Regions from separate parts of the Homo sapiens genome. Here region 2 is linked to region 1. Evidence: fine-mapped QTL for protein levels in blood plasma. A gene starts in region 1. The other region holds a variant in brackets. All regions are shown on one strand. Distances are from middle to middle. Region 1 holds the start of RPL14 (ribosomal protein L14). Region 2 overlaps ENTPD3-AS1 (ENTPD3, EIF1B and MYRIP antisense RNA 1).

Evidence for each region. PIP is the chance, under the fine-mapping model, that this variant and not a neighbour inherited with it causes the effect. Protein levels are from antibody-based Olink assays in UK Biobank. Linkage for the fine-mapping came from a reference panel and not from the study's own genotypes, which makes the PIPs less certain.
Region 2: its variant is fine-mapped to the plasma level of the RPL14 protein (UK Biobank, PIP 0.93).

The regions. Positions count from the first base shown.
Region 1 is chr3:40,453,574-40,461,784 of GRCh38, forward strand. RPL14 (ribosomal protein L14) reads left to right here and starts at 3,766. Exons shown (of 6, transcript NM_001034996.3): 1 at 3,766-3,901; 2 at 4,317-4,418; 3 at 5,069-5,163; 4 at 7,834-7,933; 5 at 8,035-8,088. The coding sequence starts at 3,899. RefSeq lists an enhancer at 3,565-3,859 and silencers at 4,002-4,051, 5,265-5,559.
Region 2 is chr3:40,433,330-40,450,741 of GRCh38, forward strand. All of the region lies in intron 2 of ENTPD3-AS1 (ENTPD3, EIF1B and MYRIP antisense RNA 1), which reads right to left. Among named protein-coding and RNA genes, the nearest start is that of ENTPD3-AS1, 11 kb to the right of the region's middle. The variant C/T (reference allele first, on the strand shown) is at 12,045.

The DNA of each region.
Region 1 (8,211 bases):
GGGGATCTCGAGATGCTTGTGGGGAGCACATTTTAGGAAACAGGGGGCTCAAGCTGCATGAAATGCTGCGGGAAATAGGAATGAGAGACGCAGAATGGTCGGAGAAAAAAGCTAGGAAGGTGTTTGGGAGTAAGATTTTGGAGTGCCTTGAATGCCAGACTAGGGAGTTTGGACTATATCCTGTAAGATAGGGGATAAAAATCAACTTTAAACAGGAGTGATATAACAAGATAATGTACTTTAGAAAATAATTCTGTAACTGTAGGGGGAGTCCCAAAGTGTTTCTCAAATTGTGTTCGGGGAAGTTCAAAGTGTGTTTGAGAGCTTGTTTTTATATGCAGATTCTTGCCCCTCACCAGACCTGCAAATAAAGTTCTCTGGTTGTACAGCCAGGAAACTGCATTAAAAAAAAACTTTTTAGGTTAACATACATTTGGTGAGAAAACGCATAAACCATATGGATAGGGCTCTGAATTTTCACAAGCAAACACTTCAGCCAGGCGGGGTGGCCCGTGCCCCTAATCCCAGCTACTCGGGAGGCTTAGGCAGGAGAATGGCTTGAGGCCAGGAGTACCAGATCAGCCTGGGCAACATAGCAAGACCCGTCTCTAAAAAAATTTAAAACAAAAATAATAACACACTCCCGTAGTTAACACCAGATGAAGAAACAACATGGCCAGCAGCTCAGAAGCTCCCCTTTTCCCCTTTAGCCACTGCTGCCTGCACCAAAGGTAAATATGATCATTACTTATAAGAACTGTAGATTAGTTTTGCCTGTTTTGAATTTGATATAAATAAAAGCATACAGGATATATTGTGTCAGCTTATTTGTTAGTGTTATTTATGAAATTCATCCGCATTGTTCCATGTAGTTGCTGTAGACTCCGTTGCTATAGATTGTTATCACAATTTATCCAGTCTCTTGTTTATGGGCCTTTGGGTAATTTCCAGTTTGGAGATAGTAGCAAAAAAAATGCTAAAATGAACATTCTTCTTCATTCATATCTTTTGCTTTGTAAATTATAAAGCAAGACAACAAGACCTAAAGACTGATTCATTCACTACCTATTTATTGAGCCCCTTACCAGACTAAGGTGAGAAAATAAAACAGAAAAGACAGCAAAGGTCCTGCCCTCATGGAACTTATTCTAACTGGAACGAAACAACACCTACGTGGGCAGCAAAACAAGTCAAACAATTGCAATTGTGATAACTCTGAGGGAAACAAGGTGAGCTAGAAAAAGAAGGGTGGGGACTTAACCTTTTTTTATGTGGTAGCCTGGTTAACTCTCAGAAAAATATCTAGGAAAAAATACAAGAGATAAGTTGGCACTGCTACACGATGAGTATTAACAATGGGTAGACCATTCCTGGCAAGAGAGACACCATGTATAAAGGTCATGGAGGAGGAGAGAGCTTGGCCCATTCAAGACCAGTGTGGCTTCAACACAATGAAGGAGGGATGGCATAAGGTGTATCTGGGTATTAAAGCATATGATACAAGGCCAGAGTAAGAAGTTGAGATTTTATTCCAAATATTATGAAAAGCAATCGAACTGTTAAAAACAGGAAATAATGTGATCTGATTTACTTACTTAAAAGATCCCTCTAACTGCTGAGCAGAGAACAGATTAAAGACAGAATTTAGGAGGCTGCTAGAGCAGTCTCAGGGAAGATATGCTGGCATAGAGCTTAGAGGAAAGGCTTGAAATACATCTGGGAACTGTCATGGCAAAGATCATCACCTTAATCAAGTGATAAAAGGTAACACCTCTCTGCACTGGCCTGGGTAAAAATCTAAAGAATAAAATACCACCACAATATTGGGAACCCATGTGTGGTGGTGTATTCCTGTAGTCCCAACTATTCTGGAGGCTGAAGCAGAACTGCTTGAGCCCATGAGTTCAAGGCTGTAGCAGGCTACAATCAGACCTGTGAATAGCTACTGCACTCCAGCCTGGGCAACACAGCCAGACCCCATCTCTTCGAAAAAATGTATATGTGTGTGGCCAAGCACAGTGGCTCACGTTTGTAATCCTAGCACTTCTGGGAGGCTGAGGCAAGTGAATCACAAGGTCAGGAGTTCAAGACTAGCCTGGCCAAAATGGTGAAACCCTGTCTCTACTTAAAACACAAAAATTAGCCGGGCGTGGTGGCAGGCACCTGTAATCCCAGGTACTTGGGAGGATGAGGCAGAGAACTGCTTGAACCCGGGAGGCAGAGAACTGCTTGAACCTGGGAGGCAGAGGTGGCAGTGAGCCGAGATCGCACCACTGCACTCCAGCCTGGGTGACAGAGGGAGAGTCCATCTCAAAAAAAGAAAGAAAAAAAAAAGTGTTTGTGTGTGCGTATATATATAGAGAGAGAGAGAGTGAAGAGAGAGAGAATGTATTCTGATGTGATGCACCAAGGACATAGCATTTCTACCAAAAATTCACTATCTGAATCCAATGAGGAAAACTCCAACAAACCCATGTTACAAATTTAACAGTTAAATCTAAAACTATCAGTTAAAGACTAGAGACCTGATAAATAATTGCAATTTGTAATCCTCCATTAGATCAAGAGCCTGGAAAAACAATTTTTTTTCCCATTTGCTCCAAGGAACATAGGAGCAACAACTTATAAATTTGAATAAGGACTGAAGGTTAGATAATAGTACTATTGCAATATCAATTTCCTGATTTTGATAAGTGTACTGATGACATAAGAGAATCTCTCTGTTGTTAGGAAATACACATTTTAAGAACGTATAGATAGGCTGGGCATGGTGGCTCACGCCGGTAATCCCAACACTTTGGAAGGCCGAGACGAGAGGATCGTCTTCACTCAGAAGTTAGAGGCTGCAGGGAACCATGATCGCGCCACTGCACTCCAGCCTGAGCGACTGAGGGAGACCCTGTCTCTATAAAAGAATGTAACGCCAGGCACGGCGGCTCACGCCTGTAATCCCAGCACTTTAGGAAGCTGAGGGAGGCAGATCACGAGGTCAGGAGTTCGAGACCAGCCTGGCCAACATAGTGAAACCCTGTCTCTACTAAAAATGCAAAAAAATTAGCCGGCCATGGTGGCGCGCGCCTGTAGTCCCGGCTACTTGGGAGGCTGAGGCTGGAGAATCACTTGAACCCGGGAGGCGGAGGTTGCGGTGAGCCAAGCCCCCGCCACTGCACTCCAACCTGGGCAACAGACCGAGACTCCGTCTTTAAAAAAAAAAAAATGTAGCGATAGAAGGACATCATGTCGGCAATTTCCTTTCAAATGATATAGCACATGCAAAACGTTAACATTTGTGGAATCTAGAAGGGTTTGTGGGAATTATTTGTACTAGTTTAGCAATATTTCTGTAACTGTGAATTACTTGAAAATGAAAGGTTAACAAAGTTACTGAGATTAGGAGAGAACGTGAGGAGCGAACAGACCTAGCCATGAATAACCAACAAATAAAACTCGAGGAAATAAAAAGGAACTCAAATGGCATGCGACCAACGGAAGACATAGCTTCTGTACTCTTAACCCTAAATTACTAAGCGATGACCCTCCTGCAGCTTTCTAATCCAAATCACCAAAAACAATCTCGCCGCCCAACTTTGCCAAAAAGCAACTTAACGCCAGCCGACTCCGCCATGTTTTCCCAGTGAGCTTGCGAGCGCGTGCGTACGCACGCACGCACGCACGCACCAACCAATCGGTGCTCACGTCGGTGACTCGTTACCGCAGGGGCGGTGCGTTCTTCTACACATGCGCAGGGTTGGGCGGGTCTTCTTCCTTCTCGCCTAACGCCGCCAACATGGTGAGTCTTACTGTTGCGGGCTCCGGGGCCGTCGACCATGCCGCTCGACCTCCACCTCCGCTGGGAAGCTGAGGCGCCAAACGGCTCCCAGAGGGTCCCGGGAAGCGCATGGTGAGGGTCCCCGGGCCGGCTGTGCAGCGGAATCGGGCCCTTCCCGGACTCGCGCCCTTCCCGGACTCGCCGCTGGCGAGCGCGTGGAGGGCCCGGCAGGCCTGGCGCGCCTTGGGCCACGCGTGCGCGCCTCCGCCGCTGGAGCTGGATGGCTGATGCGGCTCGTGGTCCGAGAGCCTTGTCCTGCCGTGTGGGCCTTGCGGACCTGGGAGCTGGCGGGCGTTGGGAACCGGGCTTAAGCTACTGAGGCGTTTGCTGATTTCGTCCATCCAGGTTGGCGCCTGGCTCTCGGGCGTTTGTTCCCTGCAGCATTCTTTTTCGCTGAATTTAACCATGTTGTCTTTAGCTGCAGAAGGTGACATATGTAGCGAGTATTTCTAAGTAAGTTTCACTGTCCTTTCTCCTCCAATTTTAGGTGTTCAGGCGCTTCGTGGAGGTTGGCCGGGTGGCCTATGTCTCCTTTGGACCTCATGCCGGAAAATTGGTCGCGATTGTAGATGTTATTGATCAGAACAGGGTAAGTGTCACAACTTTTTACTAAACATGGCAGTGGACATGTGCCCTGCAGATGGCAATAATGAATTGTCTCGATGGCTGTGTAAGATGAGGATGCTATGGGTAGTCGCTTTATTTTACCATTGAGGAAACAGGTAATGGTACGGGTTTTAAGCACAGCCTGAAGTTAGCTATTAGTATTGAATTTCAGTATTAGCCACTTAAGCTAGAGCCAGTTATAGGCTGAAACGTTGGTTAGTTTTAAATGAGTTACTATACGTAAAGTGAGTTTAGAACAGATCCAGCACGTAGAAAGCACTTTTGTATTTACTGCTGTGTATTTGAAACAAGCAAACTAAGGAGTTGACCACTGACTATAAATCAGCAGGGATCAGAGTCCTAAAGTTGCCTGTAAATTACATGTGGTTGGTTTCTATGGGGTACTATATAGTTTAAGAAGGAGCATTTAATGATGTGGAGAAATGTTTGTGTTGAGCAAAAGACATACATATATATAACCCAGATAGGACAATCCTTGTCTTTTCTGAGCAATTTATTAAAATAGTAGTGTGGGTTTGATGGCCCTGAACGGATAAGTAATGTTACAGAACCATCTGACCATTTTAATTGCTGTTAGATTTTGCACTGAAGTTCTTGATGTTTGTGTTCTAGGCTTTGGTCGATGGACCTTGCACTCAAGTGAGGAGACAGGCCATGCCTTTCAAGTGCATGCAGCTCACTGATTTCATCCTCAAGTTTCCGCACAGGTAACTGTCCACTAATCACTCCTCCCTCCCATCCCCAGATTTGTTTATGCTAGTAAAAGTTTGTTTTGGAGTAAACAATACGGAAGATTCAGAGCCATCCTGAAGAGGGATTTGCATCATAGAAGTAGACAGGGATTATTTACTTTTAAAATGTCTTGCCTGCGCGTGATAGCTCATGCCTGTAATCCCAGTACTTTGGGAGGCCACGGTGGGAGGGTCTCTTGAGCCCAAGTTTCAAGACCAGCATGGGCAACATGGCGAAAACCCCCATCTCTACAAAAAATAAAAAAAAAATTCGTTGGGCATGGTGGCACGCGCCTGTAATCCCAGGTAGGGGGGCCTTGGGGGTGCTGAGTTGGGAGGATCGTTTTAGCGAGGTCGAGGCTGCAGAGAGCCGTGATCATGCCACTGCACTCCAGCCTGGATGACAGAGTGAGACCCTGTCTCAAAAATAAATAAATAAAATAAATGCCTTGAGGTCACTTTTCTATCCTGGTAGTTTAGGGCTTTGCCTTTGTTTAGATTTGCCATCTTCTTTTCTTCTGGTTTCTGCCAAATTTTTAGCTTAAAGTAAACAACAATACTAAGTCTTGTGTTTATTGCTACTAGCTATCATTAGATAAGCTCTCAGTGTGTGTCAGTTACACAGTATTTAATATAAGAGGTTTTATCCCTAGCTTACATTTAAGTGAGGCAGTGAATAGCAGTTCTTTTTTGACATGAAAATTAAAACACTTTAGTGTGTTGCTATACAGTTAATTCAACCCACAATGATGGTTGCAGTGGAACATGTAATTTTGCATGCTTTAAAAAATAGTCAAAAACTTGCTGTATGTTGGCCGGGCGCGGTGGCTCACGCCTATAATCCCAGCACTTTGGAAGGCCGAGGCGGGTGGATCACGAGGTCAGGAGATGGAGACCGTCCTGGCTAACACGGTGAAACCCCGTCTCTACTAAAAATACAAAAAAAAAATATTCCGGGCATGGTGGCGGACACCTGTAGTCCCAGCTACTTCAGAGGCTGAGGCAGGAGAATGGCGTGAGCCCGGGAGGCGGAGCTTGCAGTGAGCCGAGATCGCAACACTGCACTCCAGCCTGGGTGACAGAGCGAGACTCCGTTTCAAAAAAAAAAAAAAAAAAAAAACTTACTGTATGCTGAGCACTACAGGCACTGTGGGACGTGTATTAACACATAATGGATTTTGAAGTACTGGTAGTTGAAAACATGCCACTTGAACAACCTCGAGTGAACATAGCCATGCTGCTACTACTGTGACATACCAATTAGGGGTGAAGCTTGAGGATACTTGTCAAAGTTCAAAGCAGTAGAAAATACTTGGTAACTTAGATTTTTCACTAGGTACTCTTGTAATTCTGCCTTGGATCCCTGGACACCCTGGATTTTATTTTTAGGATGTTTGGCCACAAATTGTTACTGTAAATTTTTTTTTAAAAAAAAGCCTAACAGTTAATATTAATTACCTTGTTTGTTACGAGAATGAATGGCTCGGATGTGTGCAGTGGCTCATACCTGTAATCTCAGCACTCTGGGAGGCCAAGGCAGGTAGATAACTTGAGGTCAGGAATTTGAGACCAGCCTAGCCAACCCCGTCTCCACTAAAAGTCCAAAAATTAGCCCAGTGTGGTAGTGTACTCCTGTAGCCCCAGCTATTTGGGTGGATGGAACAGAAGAATTGCTAGAACCTAGGAAGCAGAGGTCACAGTGAGCCAACGTTGCGCCAGTGCATTCTCCATCCTGGGTTACAGAGCAAGACCCTGTCTCAAAAAAAGAAAAAAAAAAAGAATGGTTTTCAACACGTCCACTGCCCGAGTGGAATTATATATAGTCAGAGGTGGGTTTTTTGTGTTTTTTTTGAGGGTTTTTTTTTTCTTTTGACACGGAGTCTCACTTTGTCACCCAGGCTAGAGTGCAGTGACGCAATCTTGACTCACTGCAACCTCAGGCTCCCAAGTAGCTGGGATTATAGGCACCTGCAACCACGCCCAGCTAATTTTTGTGTTTTTAGTAGAGATGGGGTTTCACTATGTTGGCCAACCTGGTCTTGAACTCCTGACCTCAGGTGATCCACCCATCTTGACCTCCCAAAGTGCTGGGATTACAGGTGTGAGCCACTGCGCCTGGTCAAGAGGTAGTTTTTAAATTCATAAAATGGGCTGGGCTGGGTGCAGTGGCTCATACCTGTAATCCCAGCACTTCAGGAGGCCAAGGTGGAGGGTTGCTTGAGCCCAGGAGTTGGAGACCAGCCTGGGCAACGTAGCAAGACCCTGTCTCTACAAAAAATATAAAAATTAGCTGGGTGTGCTGGTATGCACCTGTAGTCCCAGCTACTTGGGAGGCTGAGGCAGGAGGATGGCTTGAGCCTAGAAGGTTGAGGCTACAGTGAGCCATGATCATACTATTGCATTCCAGCCTGGGTGGCAAGCAAGATCCTCTCTCAAAAAAAAAAAGGGACTGGATTACAGTTTTGATTAAAATATGCTTGAAGTTAATAACCTATTCTGGCTTACTGAACACAAAAATAAGTAAAATACATAGTGTACCAGGTGTTGTGTAACAGGAAGAGTGCTTTTCAAGGAACAAAGAAAGTGTCTTTGATAATGAGTGACTTCAAAGCTGATTTCTTAATCTGTGGTCTTGGCTCGTTCTAGTGCCCACCAGAAGTATGTCCGACAAGCCTGGCAGAAGGCAGACATCAATACAAAATGGGCAGCCACACGATGGGCCAAGAAGATTGAAGCCAGAGAAAGGGTAATAACTTAGGGTCATTTGAATTCTGGTCCTTTCTTTTTTTGGAGGGTTCAAGATAGTGTGAGAGGGATAATTTTTATTTGTTGTTTTTTTTTTAACAGAAAGCCAAGATGACAGATTTTGATCGTTTTAAAGTTATGAAGGCAAAGAAAATGGTAAGATTTAAGATCTGTATTTTTGTGTAACTTAGCTTTAAATAATAAGGGAGCAGTAGCCAAATCCCATTTCAGGCTGCCAGCTTCTTGGAAGCTTTCTGTAAAAAAGGAGAATTTATCTTC
Region 2 (17,412 bases), 16 kb before region 1:
TACCAAAAAATACAAAAATTAGCCAGGTGTGGTGGTGCACACCTGTAATCCCAGCTTCTCGGGAGGCTGAGCCAAGACAATCACTTGAACCTAGGTGGTGGAAGTTGTAGTGAGCCGAGATCACGCCACTGCACTCCAGCCTGAGCAGAAGAGCAAGACTCTGTCTCAAAATAAGTAAATAACTAAATGAAATAATGGTATCTTGGATTTTTTTTTCAAGAACCCTTGCTGTTTAGATCAATGGTCCTCAACCTTTTTGGCACCAGAAACCGGTTTCAAGGGAGACAATGTTTCCACGGACAGTGTGGGGCTGGGTGGGGATGCACAGATGGTTTCAGGATGAAACTGTTCCACCTCAGATCATCAGGCATTAGATTCTCATAAGGAGCAAACCTAGATCCCTCACACACGCAGTTCACAATAGGGTTCGCATTGTTGCTGATCTGACAGGAGGCGGAGCTCAGATGGTAATGCTGGTTTGCCCGCTGCTCAACACCTGCTGCGCAGCCCGGTTCCTAAACAGGCCACGGACCAGTACTGGTCTACTGCCTGGCTGAGGGTTGGGGACCTCTGGTTTAGATACTTGCTGAACTGTTTCCAGATGAAATGATACGTCTGGCGTATCAGTCAAAGTTCAACCAGAGAAATAGAGCCAGTATTAAGAGATCTATTGCAAGGAATTGGCTTGTGAGACTATGGGGCTAGCTAGGCAAGTCCTAAATCCACAGGGCAGGCCATCAGGAAGAGCAGGCTGGAACCCTCAGGCATGAACTAAAGCTACAGTCCACAGATAGAATTTCTTCCTTCTCAGAGAAGTCCCAGTTCTGCTCTTATGGATTTTCAACTGATTTAATCAGGCTCACCCAGATTATCTAGGATAAGTCCCCTTAAAAATCTACTAATTATGGGCAGTAATCACACCCACAAAATACTTTCACAGCTACACCTAGATTAACAAATAACTGGGTGCTATAGTCTAGCCAAGTTGACACATAAAATTGACCACCACATCTGTGAATTGATTCAAAATTACAGGGGAGGGAGAATGTAGGGGTAGAACTGGCCCATACTTTGATGGTCCTTGAGGTTGGGGTGATGAGACATAGGAGTTTATTATAGTATTCTATCTGCTTTGTGTATGTTTACAATTTTCTAAATAAAAGTTAAAATACATATTTTGAGGCCAGGCATGGAGGCTCACGCCTATAATCCCAGCACTTTGGGAGGCTGAGGCGGGCAGATCACCTGAGGTCAGGAGTTCGAGACCAGCCTGACCAACCTGGAGAAACCCTGTCTCTACTAAAAATACAAAATTAGCTGGGCATCGTGGTGCATGCCTGTAATCCCAGCTACTTGGGAGGTTGAGGCAGGAGAACTGCTTGAACCCGGAAGGCGGAGGTTGTGGTGAGCTGAGATCATGCCATTGCACTCCAGCCTGGGCAACAAGAATGAAACTGTCTCAAAAAAAAAAAAAAAAAAAAAAAAAAAAAAATATATATATATATATATATATATATAAACACGCAGAATCTCACTGCTGTATATTTGATATTTTTCTTTCTGAATCTTTTTCTCTACATATTTGTACATAGTTAAGATCATGCTGGAATTACAATTTTATATTTCCTTCGTTCACAGCATTATACCATTAGCATTTTCAGATCTCATTAAAAATTATTCCCAAATATCAAACAAAATGATTAAGAACTCAGGCTTTCACATCACAAAAACCTGGTTCACACATCCTAGTTCTGCTGTTCATTGTTGTGTGATCTTTGTCTAAAAATCTTAAGTTTTCTATGCCTCAGTTTCCTTTAATACAGCCATTCAATTCAACTGCTTGTTCATTTGTTCATTCAACTAATATTGATTGAATTCATCCTCTGAGTAAGATCCTGTGTAGGTGGCATAACTCCACCAATTAACAATGTAGACAAAGTCCTTGCCTTCAGGGAGCCAACGTTCTAGTGGGGGAGACAGACACTAACCAACTAAATACACACTGTACAGGGGATTATAAGTGATCTGGAGAAATATAAAGAAAAGTAAGGGGAAAGGAAAGTGCCAGGAGCATGAGATGGGGACGCCATTAGGTCAGAAAAGTCTTTTCAGATAAGGTGACGTCTGAACGAACACTTGGAAAATGTGAAGGAGTCGGCCATTTGAATATCTGGAGGAAGAGCATTCTAAGCAAAAGAGACCACAAATACAAAGGCCATTGTGATTGGAGCAGAATAAATGACTGGAAGATGGAGGAGATAGGGTAAGGGAGTTAAGACGGAGTAGATGGTGCAAGGGGGCCCCATTTAGAGTTCTGAACAAAGGAGGGGTATCTGGCTTCTGTTTCTAGTTACAGTGATAAAAAACAAAGGAGACAAGAGCAGAAACAGGAAAACCAGTTGGTGGGTGATTTTAATAATCCAGATGAGAAATGCTGATGGCTTGGATCAGGTTGGTAGCAGTAGAGGCTGTGAGCAATGGTCAGACCCCGGATATATGTGAAAGTAGAGCCCACAGTGTTTGCTGATGAATGTACATGGAGTGAGAGAGAAAAAGAGGGGTTAAAAGTTATTCCAATATTTTTGCCTGAGTGACTGAAAGGATAGAGTTGCTATTAAATGACATGTGAATATAGCAGGGAGAGAGGGTTTAGTAAGAGGAAGGTTAAGATCCAGACTATTTTCTTAAAAAAACAAAAACTGTTTATACCAGCACATATCCATAAGCATGGAGAGAAAAGAAGAAAAGAAAACAACAAAAACATTTTGGCATGGTGGACCAGGGGTAACTGACTTAGCAGACCCAAGAAAGCACAATCCTAAAACAATGAGAAAATAAAAAATCAACCAATGTAAACAGCAGTGTTCTCAAAAAGCTCAGGAATCTGTGGCATCAAGTACAGCTGCAAGTTGGGTTGGCAAGCACAAAATAAAGATAATTAAAGCTGTTTAAGAATAGTGATTCTGGCCAGGTGCAGTGGCTCATGCCTGTAATCCCAGCACTTTGGGAGGCTGAGGCGGGTGGATCATGAGGTCAGGAGTTCAAGACCAGCCTGGCCAACATGGTGAAACTCTGTCTCTACTAAAAATACAAAAATTAGCCAGGTGTGGTAGAGCACCTGTCATCCCAGATACTAAGGAGACTGAGGCAGCTGAGGCAGGAGAATCGCTTGAACGCGGGAGGCAGAGGTTGCAGTGAACCGAGATTGCACCACTGCACTCCAGCCTGGGCGACAGAGCAAGACTCCTTCTCGAAAAGAAAAAAAAAAAAAGAATAGTGGTTCCTAGATACCTTCTACTCTTTGCTGATGAGTGACTGCCTCTTCCTAACCCAAGCACAGGAACTGGAAGGCACAAGGCACAGTTACAGGTGGAGGTGTCATACCAAAACAACAAGATTAAGGAAACCAAGGCATATTCAGTGTTTAGACTCCAAGCCTCTAACCCCATCAACTCCCAGGTTCTAGGTTAACTCTACCCTCTAGTCAGGACTTTGGAAGATTCTTTTGTGAGGAATCCAAGAAGTCCAGGAGAAAGGACACAAATGTGCTGGCATTTGCAGTTTGCTAGTCAGATTATCCTACAGTGAAGCTTGAATCAATAACTCAAAACTTCCAATCAGCTTTTTATCCCCTCACCTTAAACAGAAAACAAACGAGGTGCCAGGAGTGGTGGCTCGCTCATGCCTGTAATCCCAGCATTTTGGGAGGCCAAGGCGGGTGGATCACCTGAGCTCAGCAGTTCGAGACCAGCCTGACCAACATGGTGAAATTTCATCTCTACTAAAAATACAATAATTAGCTGGGCAGGATGGCAGGTGCCTATAATCCCAACTTCTCGGAAGGCTGAGGCAGGAGAATCGCTTGAATCCAGGAGGCGGAGGTTGCAGTGAGCCGAGATTGTGCCACTGCACTCGAGCCTGGGCAACAGAGGGAGACTCCATCTCAAAAAAAAAAGAAAAGAAAAGAAAAAGAAAAAGAAAGAAAAGAAAAGAAAAGAAAAGAAAGAAAGAAAACAAGGCAAGTATTTAAGGACAGCCCCCACTGTTGTTCTAGTCAGGCATCAGGAAGATATGCACTTAGATATCAGTTTGTGTTTTATCAGCCATTTTTACCCAGAAGTCTGTCTCTCTTGTTATTGTTACCTCCCTCTATCTTCTGTCATCTGCTTTCTTCTTTTCTAAATAAAAGTAGAGTTCCAAGAAGCCCATGTTTTTATTTTATTTTATTTTATTTATTTATTTATTCATTTATTTTAGAGATGGGGTCTATGTTGCTGAGGCTGGACTTGAACCCCTGGGCTCATGCAATCCTTCCTTCTCAGCCTCCCAAGTAGCTGGGACTACATGTACACACCACTATGTCTGGCAGGTTCCTGCTTGTGTCCCTTTGCTCTTATCTGCTTAAAAGTCACCTCTGAATCATCACTAGAACTTGACTTCTCACAGATGAAAAGGCGGTGTGATGAATACAAGTAAAGATTGGGATGATGCACTTGAAAGATGGAGGAAGGGGCAAGTCAAGGAACATAGGTGGCCATGAGAAGCTGAAAAAGCAAGGAAACAAATTATCCCCTCAGAGTCTCCAAAAGGAACCTCTAAAAGCCAAAACGTTGACTTTAGCCCAGTAAAACTGAATTCAGACTTCTGACCTTTAGAACTGTAAGAGAATAAAACTTGTTTTAAGCCATTAAAACAAAACAAAACAAAATTTGACCTCTCACAACAGAGAGGAAGTCTTACTGCCTTTCTGTAGATTTCAGAACCATGGTCAGGGATCCAAATACACTCTATGAGGGTGACATGGGCTCCATCACACACTCCAGAAAGGAGTGTAAATTAATCTAACGTTCCGAAAAAGTAGCTATAATATGCTGCAAGATTTTAAAAGTGCACATTCCTCAATCCAACAACCGTATTTCTAAAAATTAATTCTAAGGAAACCTTTTTTAAAAATACGGACATTGTTATTACAGATACATATTGAAATATTTATGGATACACTGATATAATGTCTGGGATCTGCTTCACATTAATCCTGTTTGGTGAGCATATTCACATTTTCTCATAGGGGAGCCACTAGGCACATATGGCTATTGAGCTAGTCCAGTTGAGATATGCAATGAATGTAAAGTACACACTAGATTTTGAAGACTTAGTACCAAAAAAATTAAAATATGTCATTAATAACTTGGAAACTGGTTATATATTAAAACAATATTTTGGATACATTGAGTAAAATAAAATGTATTATTAAAATTAATTTCACAGGCCAGGCACAATGGCTCACACTTATAATCTCAGCACTTTGGGAGGCTGAGGTGAGATGGGAGGATCACTTAAGGCCAGGAGTTCCAGACCAGCTTGGGCAACACAGGGAGACTCTGTCTGTACAAAAACTTTAAAAATTAGCAGGCCTGTTGGCACATGCCTATAGTCCTAGCTACTCATGAGGCTGAGGCTGGAAGATCGGTTGAGTCCAGGAATTTGATGCTTCAACAAACTATGATTGCACCACTACACTCCAGCCTGGGCAATAGAGTAAGACCCTGTCTTAAATAAATAAATAAATAAATTTCACTTCTTTCTTTCATATTTTTCAAATGTAGCTACTAGAACATTTTAGGTTACATTAAGTTAGGTTTTAAATTACAAACATGGTTTTCCTTTGTAGTTTACATTATATTTTTATTAGACAGCACTGGTATAGAATCCATATACTATAGATAAAACAAGATGGCCCATTAAACATGAACATCTTTGGATACTTGACCAAAAATGGCTATTGTTGAAACTAAATAATGGGTATGCAGGAGTTTATTATACCATTTTCTTTACTTTTGTACATGATTGAAAATTCCATAATGAGTCTGGGCACGGTAACTCACACCTGTAATACCAGTACTTTGGAAGGCCAAGACAGGAGAATTGCTTGAGCTCAGGAGTTTGAGACCAGCCTAGGCAACATAAAGAAACCCTACCTCTACAAAAAAAAAAAAAAAAAAAAAAAAAAAATTAATTAGTTGGGTGTGGGTCACGTGCCTGTAGTCCCAGCTTAACCAGAAGGCTGAGGAAGGAGAACAGATTGAGCCTGGGAAGTCAAGGCTGCAGTAAGCTATGATCGTGCCACTGTGCTCCAGCCTGGGTAACAGATCAAAATCCTGTCTCAAAAAAATATATATTACATAATGAAAGTTTAAAAATATGTGACTAAAGCTGCTTTCAGAAAAATACCAATCCCTATTTATATAATAGTAAAAAGTGAAAAAGTAAGCCCGATCTTCAATAGCAGTAGAGGAATGGCGAGGTGAATTATGTTCATCTATATGCTATGCTAAAAGAGTATGATGCAGCCATTAAATAATAAAATAAAAAATAACATCTAACATTTGAATGCTTACTATATTCCAGACCTGTGCTAAGCAAATTATATGCATTACATCACTTAATTTTTATAACAGCTCTCTGAGTTGGATAAAATTTTTATTCTCCAACCTCTTCCCTTGACTCCAAATTTATATATTCATTAGCCTGCCAAAACCCATTAGCTAGATTATATGGATAAAGAGCCTAACAAACTAAAAGAAAAAATGAATTGGCAGAAACAGAAACTATGCAAGGAAAAAAATATTTTAAACAAAAAAAAGAAACTCATTAATATTATAAGAAAAATAAGGGACACTGCATCAATGAAATAGAAACAATTTTTTTCTTTTTCTTTTTTTTTTTTTTTAAGACAGGATCTTGCTATGTTGCTCATGCTGGCCTTGAAAACCTGGGCCCAAGCCTCCCACTTCAGCCTCCCAAGTAGCTGGAACTACAGGCACACCCCACCACATCTAGCTCAGAAACAATTTTTTTTAAAGGAAAGATGAGATATTCAGAACAAAGAAACAGTTCTTGGAAATTTAAAACATGATAGCAGACATTAAGAACTCGCTAGAAGGGTTGAAAGATAGCATTGAGGCAAACCCTCAGAAAGGAAAGAAAAAACACAAAGAAATGGGAAAAAGAGTAAGAAGACAAAATTCTAAGACTAGCCCACCAAAACCCCCATCTGAATAACACAAGTTTCAAAAAGAAGAATCACCCATGAAATACATGGAAAATTTTACCCTGACCAGAAGGATATGGACATGATTGAAAGGGCCCAGCCCAATAAATAAAAATTACTTTACACCAATGTACAATGCTATAAAAGTTCAGAACATTAAAAAGAAAAAGAATACCCCTTATAAACTTTCAGAGAGGGAGAAAAAAAAAACAGGCCACATACAAATGATCAAGATGAGAATGGATTTAGTTTTCTCAACAATAACTCTGGAAGCAAGAAGCCAATGGAGTAATGCCTTCAAAATTCTGAGGGAAAATCATGTTTGAGCTAGAGTTCTGTATCCAGCCAAAAATGATCAATTAGGTATGAGAATAGAAGAGAGACATTTTCTGACAGCTTCCTTTTACAGGGAGCTAACTGGAAGGTGTGTTCCACCAAAAGAAGAGACTAAACCAAGGAAACAAAAGGCATCGACTCCAGAAAAAAAGGAGATCCAATATGGGAGAAAATGGGAAGGAAATCTCCAGGATGGTGATGAAGGTGTAGAGGGGACCAGCCAGAATGAAGTGACTCAGTAGCCTCTAAAGGAAATAGCCAATAGACACATGAAAAAATGCTCATCATCACTGGCCATCAGACAAATGCAAATCAAAACCACAATGAGATACTATTTCACACCAGTTACAATGGCGATCATTAAAAAGTCAGGAAACAACAGGTGCTGGAGAGGATGTGGAGAAATAGGAACACTTTTACACTGTTGGTGGGACTGCAAACTAGTTCAACCATTGTGGAAGACAGTGTGGCAATTCCTCAAGGATCTAGAACTAGAAATACCATTTAACCCAGCCATCCCATTACTGGGTATATACCCAAAGGATTATAAATCATGCTGCTATAAAAACACATGCACACGTATGTTTATTGTGGCACTATTCACAATAGCCAAAGACTTGGAACCAACCCAAATGTCCATCAATGATGGACTGGATTAAGAAAATGTGGCACATATACACTATGGAATACTATGCAGCCATAAAAAGGATGAGTTCATGTCCTTTGTAGGGATATGGATGAAGCTGGAAACCATCATTCTCAGCAAACTATCGCAAGGACAGAAAACCAGACACCGCGTGTTCTCACTCATAGGTGGGAATTGAACAATGAGAACACTTGGACACAGGAAGGGGAACATCACACACCGGGGCCTGTTGTGGGGTGGGGGGAGTGGGGAGGGATAGCATTAGGAGATATACCTAATGTAAATGACGAGTTAATGGGTGTAGCACACCAACATGGCACATGTATACATATGTAATAAACCTACACGTTGTGCACATGTACCCTAGAACTTAAAGTATAATTAAAAAAAAAAGATGATGATGAAGTTGATAGAACTTTACATCTGGGCCATGCGTGGTGGCTCATATCTGTAATCCCAGCACTTGGGGAGGCAACCTAGTGAGACCCCCGCTCTACCAAAAAAAAAAAAAAAAATGGCCAGGTGTGGTGATGTGTGCCTGTAGTCCCAGCTCCTTGGAAGGCTGAGGCAGGAGGGTTACTTGGAGCCCAGGAGGTCGAGGCTGTAGTGATCCATGATTGCACCACTGCACTCCAGCCTGGAGGACAGAGTGAGAACCCATCTCAAAAAAAAAAAAATTGTGTTACACTCATGCAATGGAATACTACTGAGCAATAAAAAGGATTGAACTCCTAATACCTAGAATAACATGGATGACTCTCACAGACATAATGTTGAGCTGAAAAAATCAGACCCAAAAGAATACATACTGTATGATACAATTTATATGAAGGCCAAGAATAAACAAGAGGAATCTATGGTGATATAGAGGCACAATAGTGGTAGACTCCAGGAAATGAAGTTAAGAAGAAAGAGGGAACTTAATTCGGCCACAGAAATGTTCTGTATTTTGGTCTGGATGGTGGTTACGAAGTGGTTCATGCCTGTAATCTTAGCACTTTGGGAGGCTTAGGCAGGCAGATTGCTTGAGCCCAGGAATTTGAAACCAGCCTAGGCAACATGGCAAGACCTCGTCTCTACAAAAAAATACCCCCAAAAAAATTAGCCAGGCATGGTGGCTGTACCTGTAGTCCCAGCTACTTGTGAGGCTGAGGTGGGAGGATACCTTGAGCCTGGGAGGTGGAGGTTGCAGTGAGCTGAGATCATGCCACTGCACTCCAGCCTGGTGACAGAGTGAGCCTCTGTCTCAAAAAAAAATAAAAAATAAAAAATAGAAGGGTAACCTGTTGACAAGAACTTCCAGCCCAGGATTTTATACAAGAAGGCTGTTTTCTGTGTAAGCAAAGCAGTTTATTTTAACGTTTTATGGTTTCTCCTAGGAATATGCCATTGATTAAATTATGAAAAAGCTTTAGGCGGAGCACGGTGGCTCACGCCTGTAATCCCAGCACTTTGGGAGGTCAAGACGGGCAGATCACCTGAGGTCAGGAGCTCAAGATCAGCCTGGCCAACATGGCAAAACCCAGACTCTACTAAAAATCCAAAAATTAGCTGGGGTGGTGGTGGCTTCCTGTAATCCCAGTTACTTGGGAGGCTGAGGCAGGGGCATCGCTTGAACCTGGGAGGGGGAGGTTGCAGTGAACTGAGATCAAGCCACTGTACTCCAGCCTGGGCAACAGAGTGAGACTCCATCAGAAAAAAAGAAAAGAAGAGAAAAAGAAAAAAAAAGATACTTGGCTGGGTGCAGTGGCTCATGCCTGTAATCCCAGCACTTTGGGAGGCTGAGGTGGGCAGATCACTTGAGGTCAGGAGTTTGAGACCAGCCTAGCCAACATGGTGAAACCCCGACTCTACTAAAAATGCAAAAACTACCCAAGCATGGTGGTGCACGCCTGTAATCCCAGCAGGAGAATCGCTTGAACCCAGGAGGCAGAGGTTGCAGCGAGCCAAGACTGTGCCACTGCACTCCAGCCTGGGTGACAGAGTGAGACTCCATCTCAAAAAATATGTATGCATATGAAAAAGTTTTAGGGCCGGGCATGGTGGCTCATGTCTCTAATCCCAGCACTTTGGGAGGCCGAGGCAGGCGGATCACAAGGTCAGGAGTTCGAGACCAGCCTGGCCAACGTACTGAAACCCTGTCTCAACTAAAAAATACAAAAAAAAAAAAAAAAATTAGCCAGGCATGGTGGCAGGCCCCCGTAATAGCAGCTACTCGGGAGGCTGAGGCAGGAAAATCGCAAGAAAAGAAAGGAAGAAAGAAAGAAAGAAAGGAAAGGAAAGGAAAGGAAGGAAGGAAGGAAGGAAGGAAGGAAGGAAGGAAGGAAAGAAAGAAAGAGAAAGAAAGAAAAGGAAAGAAAGGAAAAGAAAGAAAGAAAGAAAGAACAAACAAAGAAACAAAGAAAGAAACAGAAAGAGAGAAAAAGGTTTAGACCCAATTTATACTTTCCATGTATACCTCCTCATAGGCTAATTTGTTCCTCAGTTTGGCGGTTTTTTGATTGTTTCTAAAATGCTGTTTCTAAAAGAACACTTATCTGCCCTAAAATGACATTTTTGGGGTTTTGAACAAAATCCCCAGCTGGTGTTTTGTGACATTGCAGGAACAAGCCTATGTTTTCCTGTATAGATTTCAGTGACTACTTATGACTATCATTTCCATCCTATTTCAACTGTGCCATTTCCATATAAAGTCTTAAGATTTAAAATTTCACATCCTATAGCTTGCTGCTGCCCACATAACATGTGTAAGTAGTAAGTACCCATTTCCTGATATTTACTTTTGCTTTTTTCCATAGTAATAGTTCTAGAATATCTGATTTTTAGCAAGGCTCATAGCCACCAGAAGTGGAGACTCAATTTCCCAGCATTGCTTGTAGGTTTGGTAATGAGGCTGAGTTCTGGCCAACGGAAAGGAAGCAGAAGTGTCCTGATATGGCAACCAAGACTCTTCCTGAGAGAACAGTGGACACCCATCTTTTGCCCTTTTCCTTTATCCTGCTGCAAAGTGTAAGGGCAGGATCTGTAGGCCTGAAGTAATGAGAATAAGAGCCACCTCATGGATGTTAGGGATGTAGGGAGAGTAAGCTGGGTCCCTGAGCTGAGGGACCAGGCCAGCTCAGGACCCCCACAAAAGAGGAAAATAAATGTTTAAGCCACAGTTATTGAGAGACTCTATAACTCATTGCTAAAATTGATGCACACTAACTCCCCTCCAGATGCCTCTTCTGGGTCTGATGCCACCACTAATGGGCCAGGTGACCAGAATTGAATGTAATCAACTTCTTCTTCAGATGTGACCCTATGATTTCGCTCAAGTTTCCTGGGCTCTCCATGTCCTGCTCATGCTGAAGCTCCAACCTGTGGATGTATCCTCAAACTCATTCTTTCAAAATGGTCAGTAGAGATTTTTATTTTCAAATGCCCAAGGGGGGTTGTTGTGCACAAATGGACTATCAACAGTTACTAGCCATTAAAATAATATTTAATTTTTAAAGTCTTATGTTTAAAAACCTAGATTTTCTTAAACCTTTTATTTCAACTTGTAAAGTTATTATTCTGTTTTATAGGTAGTAATTTTTATGTAAATTAGAAACAATAACTTTAGCTTGCTCTATGATGAATGTTCAAATAAGTCAAGTCTAAGAGATTAAATTTCCAGAAACATTAGCACCACTTAAAATCATGATTAATTAAATCCCCTGAAAACTTTAAGTCTACTTCATTAATGTCATATTGGTGGCAGCAGTGACCCATCTAGAGTGGCCACTGCCAAGACATCGGCTGCAGCAGGGAGGCACGGCTGGGGTTGTACACTCCATGGAACAGGCAGAAGCCCTGCCCTCCCCAGGTGCCACTGCAGCTGCCCAGGCCCGGCTGCAAACCCAGGCATCTCTGTGCTCTTGGGGGCCCAGGAAGGCCCCCCTGCGAAGTGTCTGCTCCCACTGCCTGGCCTCTCCCTGCTCCCAGTGCCCGCTCCAATCATGAAGCAAGGTTGGGGCCGAACCCGGG[C/T]ACTGTCACAGCCCAGCCAGGTGGGCACACACTGAGGTTGGCACTGACACGCCAGACCCCTGCCACCTTGGCCCCTTCCGGACTTTGGGCACTGACACATACAGGAGGGAAGCCAAGCAGGGGCTGAGGACAGTTGAAACATGATGAATGTGTTAGATGTTTTTAAACATTAGAGATACTTTAATAAAAAATACTCAGAGATTGGCTACATTTAACAACAAAATGTATTATTATGGGTTTGATTTACTAAATGATGGCTCTATGTTTTCCTTGTGTTGCAGACTCTCTCACCCAACTTTAGTAGCATAGCCTGGATCACAGGTGAGCCGAGATGAATGGGTCAAAGGTGTAGGATAGCAATATAATTACCCACACGTCAGATACAGATGTTTAAGTCCAGGACACAGGAGCTGGCTCCACATACATCATGGATGATTCTACCTTAGCCACAACTTAAAACACAGAATCTCCATTTGCTATTTCAACAAGCTGCTCCAAACCTTTCAGACAGGATTTAGTTTCACAATTAATAAACTACTTAACCCATTTATTCAACACATATTACTGAGCGCAAGCAATTAATGAGGCAATGTTCAAGGCACTTGGGTTACAGGAAAGAACAAGACAACGTTTTCTGCTTTCTCAGAGATTAAATTTTAGTAGGAACAGACGGAGGGAAGACAACAAAATAATGATGTAATAAAGCAATAAATTATTTTCTGTCAGAACTGAAAGAGGATAGCCAGGATGGGCCTCACTGAGAAGGTGACATTTGAGCAGACTTGAAGAAGATGCAGGAGCCAGCAGGCAAGATATGGGAGCCCTTGAGGGAAGAGTGTCCTAGGAGAGGGGACAGTCAGTGTGTGGGCTCCGGGCAGCAGGTTGCTTGCCATACTGAAGAACAGCAAGGAGGCCAGAGTGCTGGAAGAAAATTTGCAAGGGCAAGAGTGATAGGAGATGAGGAAAGAGAAAGGATAGGGGATCAGACCGTGAAAGGCCTTGCAGGACACTTAGCAGGGAGGTGAGTGTCATGATGATCTGACTTATGTTTTAAAAGGATCTCTGACTGCTGTGTGGACGACAGATTGTAGTGTAAAGGTCGAAGGAGGGAGACCATGTAGGAAGCTGTATTAAGTATCCATTGCTGTATTAACAAATACCTCAAAACTTTGTGACCTCAACAGCATTTATTATCTCACTGCCTCTGTAGGTCAGGAATCTGGGCACAATTTCGCTGAGTCCTCTGGTTCAGGGTCCTTCACAGGCAGCAATCAAGTTGTCAGCCAGGGCTACAGTCATCTCAAGGATCCACTGCAGAAAGATCCACTTCCAGCTTCACTTGGGCAACTGTCAGCAGGATTCAGTTTTTTTCAGGATATTGTATCCTGGGCCTCAGCTCTTGTCTGTTCAGGGGGCTTCTCATTTTCTTGCCATGTGGGGCTCTCCACCGGAGAGCTCACAACAGGGCAGCTTGCTTCATCACAGCAAGCAAACAGAAAAGAGAGGGAGGCAGAGAAAGAGAAAGAAAAACAGAGAGACAAACAGAGGTGTCACAGTCTTTTATACTCTAATCTCAGAAGTACATCCCACAACTTTTGTCATAGTCTATGCCTTAGAAGAAAGTCACTAAGTCCAGCTGTTTCTGAAAGGGAAGGGATTATGCAAAGGTGTGAATACCAGAAGGCAGAAATCACTGGGGGCCATTTTAGAAGTGTCCACCACAGAGGCTACTGCAGTTATCCAAACAAGAGATAGTGGTGGCTTGCACAAGGTTTATTATAACAGAGGAGGAGAGTAGTCAGGTTCTTAATAAAATTTTAAAGGTAGAGCCAACAAGATTTTTTGTCTGACTGGATATGGGGTGTGAAAGTGAAACATCAGCTGGGCAAGGTGTCTCACACCTGTAATCCTATCACTTTGGGAGGCCAAGGTGGAGGATCACTTGAGGTCAGGAGTTCAAAACCAGCCTGGCCAACACAGTGAAACCCCATCTCTACTAAAAATACAAAAAAATTAGCCAGGTGAGGTGGCGGGCGCCTGTAATCCCAGCTACTCGGGAGGCTGAGGCAGGAGAATCACTTGAACCCAGGAGGCAGAGGTTGCAGTGAGCCAAGATCGCACCATTGCACTCCAGCCTGGGTGATGGAGAGAGACTACGTCTCAAAAAAACAAACAAACAAACAAACAAAAAAACAAACAAAAAAAAAAGCGAAGGATTGAGGGTGACTTCAGGGTATCTGCTCTGAACAACTGGAAGGATGGAGTTGCCATTGACACAGATGGAGAAAACTAAACAGTAAGGTTTAGTGGATTAATAGGGAGGGGTTGCTGAAGATCAGGAGCTCTATGTTGGTATGTTAAGTTTGAGATCACCAACAGATGAATGGATAAAGAAAATGTGGTACTTATACACAATAGACTGCTATTCAGCCATCAAAAGAATGAGATTCTGTCATTTGCAATAGCATGGATGGAACTGGAGATCATCACGTTAAGTGAAAATAAGCCAGGTACAGAAAGACAAACATCACATGTTCTCACTTACTTGTGAGATCTAAAAGTCAAAACAATTGAACTCATAGGGATAGAGAATAGAAGATGGTTACCAGAGGCTGGGAAGGGTAGTGAGTGGTGTGGTGGGGGGAGGTGGGGATGGTGAACGCATACACAAGAAATTTAGAAAGAATGACTAAGACTAGTATTTGATAGCACAACAATGGGACTATAGTCAATAATTTAATTGTACACTTAAAAATACCTAAAAGAGGCCGGGCGCGGTGGCTCATGCCTGTAATCCCAGCACTTTGGGAGGCTGAGGTGGGCGGATCACGAGGTCAGGAGATCGAGACCATCCTGGCTAACACAGTGAAAACCCATCTCTACTAAAAATACAAAAAATTAGCTGGGCATGGTTGCAAGCGCCTGTAGTCCCAGCTACTCGGGAGGCTGAGGCAGGAGAATGACTTGAACCCGGGAAGCGGAGCTTGCAGTGAGCTGAGATTGTGCCACTGCACTCCAGCCTGGGCAACAGAGCGAGACTCCGTCTCAAAAAACAAACAAACAAACAAAAAACCTAAGACTATAATTGGGTTGTTTGTAACACAAAGGATAAATGCTTAAGGAGATGGATACCCGATTTTCCATGACATGATTATTACGCATTACATGCCTGTACCGAAATATCTCATGTACCCCACAAATATATACACCTGCTATGTAGCCATGAAAATTAAAAATACAAAAAAATTAAAAATAAAATTAAAAATAAAAAAAGTTTGAGATCATGATCTGACAACTAAGTATATCACAAGTCCTTGAGCTGTCCTTCAAGTTCTCTTTAATTTTTATCATAACTTCTTTCAACTCAGGTTTGAGTAGATGCAATTTTATTCCTCGACTAGGATCGCTGCTAATTTCCTCAATCTAATTGGATCCACCTAACAACTTTACACCCTCAATGGATTCTGCACGGTTAAGAGTATGGACTCTGGGTCTGAACCATGCACTGACTAGCCATCTGAGGGGGCACAAGTTATTTAGCCTCCCTATCCGTTTCCTCACCTGCAACGTAAGGATAATAATATCACCTCTATTCTAGAGGTTACATCTTGGGCTTTTGCAAGGATTAAACAATTTAATATTTGTAAGGCACTCAGAATGGTGCCTAGTGTTTGTTAGAAGTGCTATAAGGACTAGCTACACAAATGTTCTATGTGAGTGTGTGTGTGTGACTGGTTCTCAGCCACAATTCTGGAGTCACTTGATAAAAATTTAAATACTGGTCTTCCCAAAACTGATGTTGTCTCTTGGAAGGCTTTTGATCAACTACAGGCTCTCAGAAAATATGGACAAAGGCGCAAGAACCCCTCCAAAACTGGAATAAATACTTGAAGATATTAGGGAATTTTTGTTAATTTTCAGGTGTGATAATACTATTGGGGTTATATTTATTTTAAAGAAATCATCGTTTAGATACATATTGAGGTATTTATGGCTAAAATTTCTTGAATTGGCTTTTAAAATAAAACAGAAGACAGAGTAGTAAATGAGTAGAAATGAAATAAGATTGGCCCTGTGTGGATAATTTTTGAGAAAGTGTAATGTGTACATGGGAGTTTATTATACATACTATTCTATTTTTGTATATGTGGAAATTCTTAATAATAGAAACATTTTTGATCCAGGATCTATGCCAAGAGAAATTTAAGCCCTAGTACTGCTTCCCATGGTAAATATTTGGTACAACTTGGGTTCTGAATATTTATTAGCACCACAGTGACCTCTGAGACAGTGTCCCTGCTGGTATGGAGACATACAAAACACAGGTTTTCAGGCCCAACATTGTCCTTTTAACATATTACTACTGCCTTTAATGAATGTTAACTCATGTAATCCTTTAAAAAAAAAAAAAGCCAAGATGTAACACCCATCCAACTTGTCTCCAGCTGCAACCTTGCCTCCTACTGTCTATGATGAGGAGGGCATTCTTAACCCAACAGCCTGTACCATCTTTAAAAACATGTCAGATCATGTCACTGCTCCATTTAAAGCATCCACTGGCTCCTATCTTGAGAGTGAAAGCAAGTCCTTCCAGTGGCTTCCAAGGTTCCACATGCCCTGGCTCCTTCATCTTATACTATCTCTCCCTCAATCACCCCACTTCAGCCTCATTGGTCTTCCTGCTCTTCCACACGCATGCTGAGAGAGAACTTGCTGTTCCCTCTGCCTGGAATCCCAGACATCCACATGAATTGCTCACTCATCTCCTGAAGTTCTCTATTCAAGTGTCACTTTTTCCTCAAGGCCTTCCCTCACTTCCCTATTTAAAATAACTACCCTTTCCCCCTAAAGCAAATCCACCCTAGTACTCTCCATCCTCCTTTTTATTTTTCTGTGGCACTTACCACCATATGACACACTATTTGTTTATTTTCTGTATCTACCCACTAGAATGACAGTTCCATGAGAGTAGAACTTTTGCCTGTTTTATTCACTACTATGTCTTCAATGCCTTGAATAGTTTCTGGCACACACGAGGCATTTAGTGTTTGCTAAATGAATTAATACATGCTCATTCCTTCTAGATGGCACCACGTTAGCATCTCTTCTCCCTGAATGCCCTGTCACTCATTCTGCATCCTTGTTCACCACTATGTTCACTATGCTGCATTATCCAGCACCTGTCCTTGTAGTCATTCCTTTTGGGGAGAGTTGTTTCCATGGTGACACAGGAGCTTTTCACCTACTTAGCAGGCCTCTCAGAAAGCTCTTTGCACCCTGGTTCTATTTCTAGTGTTGTTAAGACTCCAACACACACAGAACTTTCCATTCCTATCCTGGAAAGCATTCTCGATCAGTATAGCTAGCT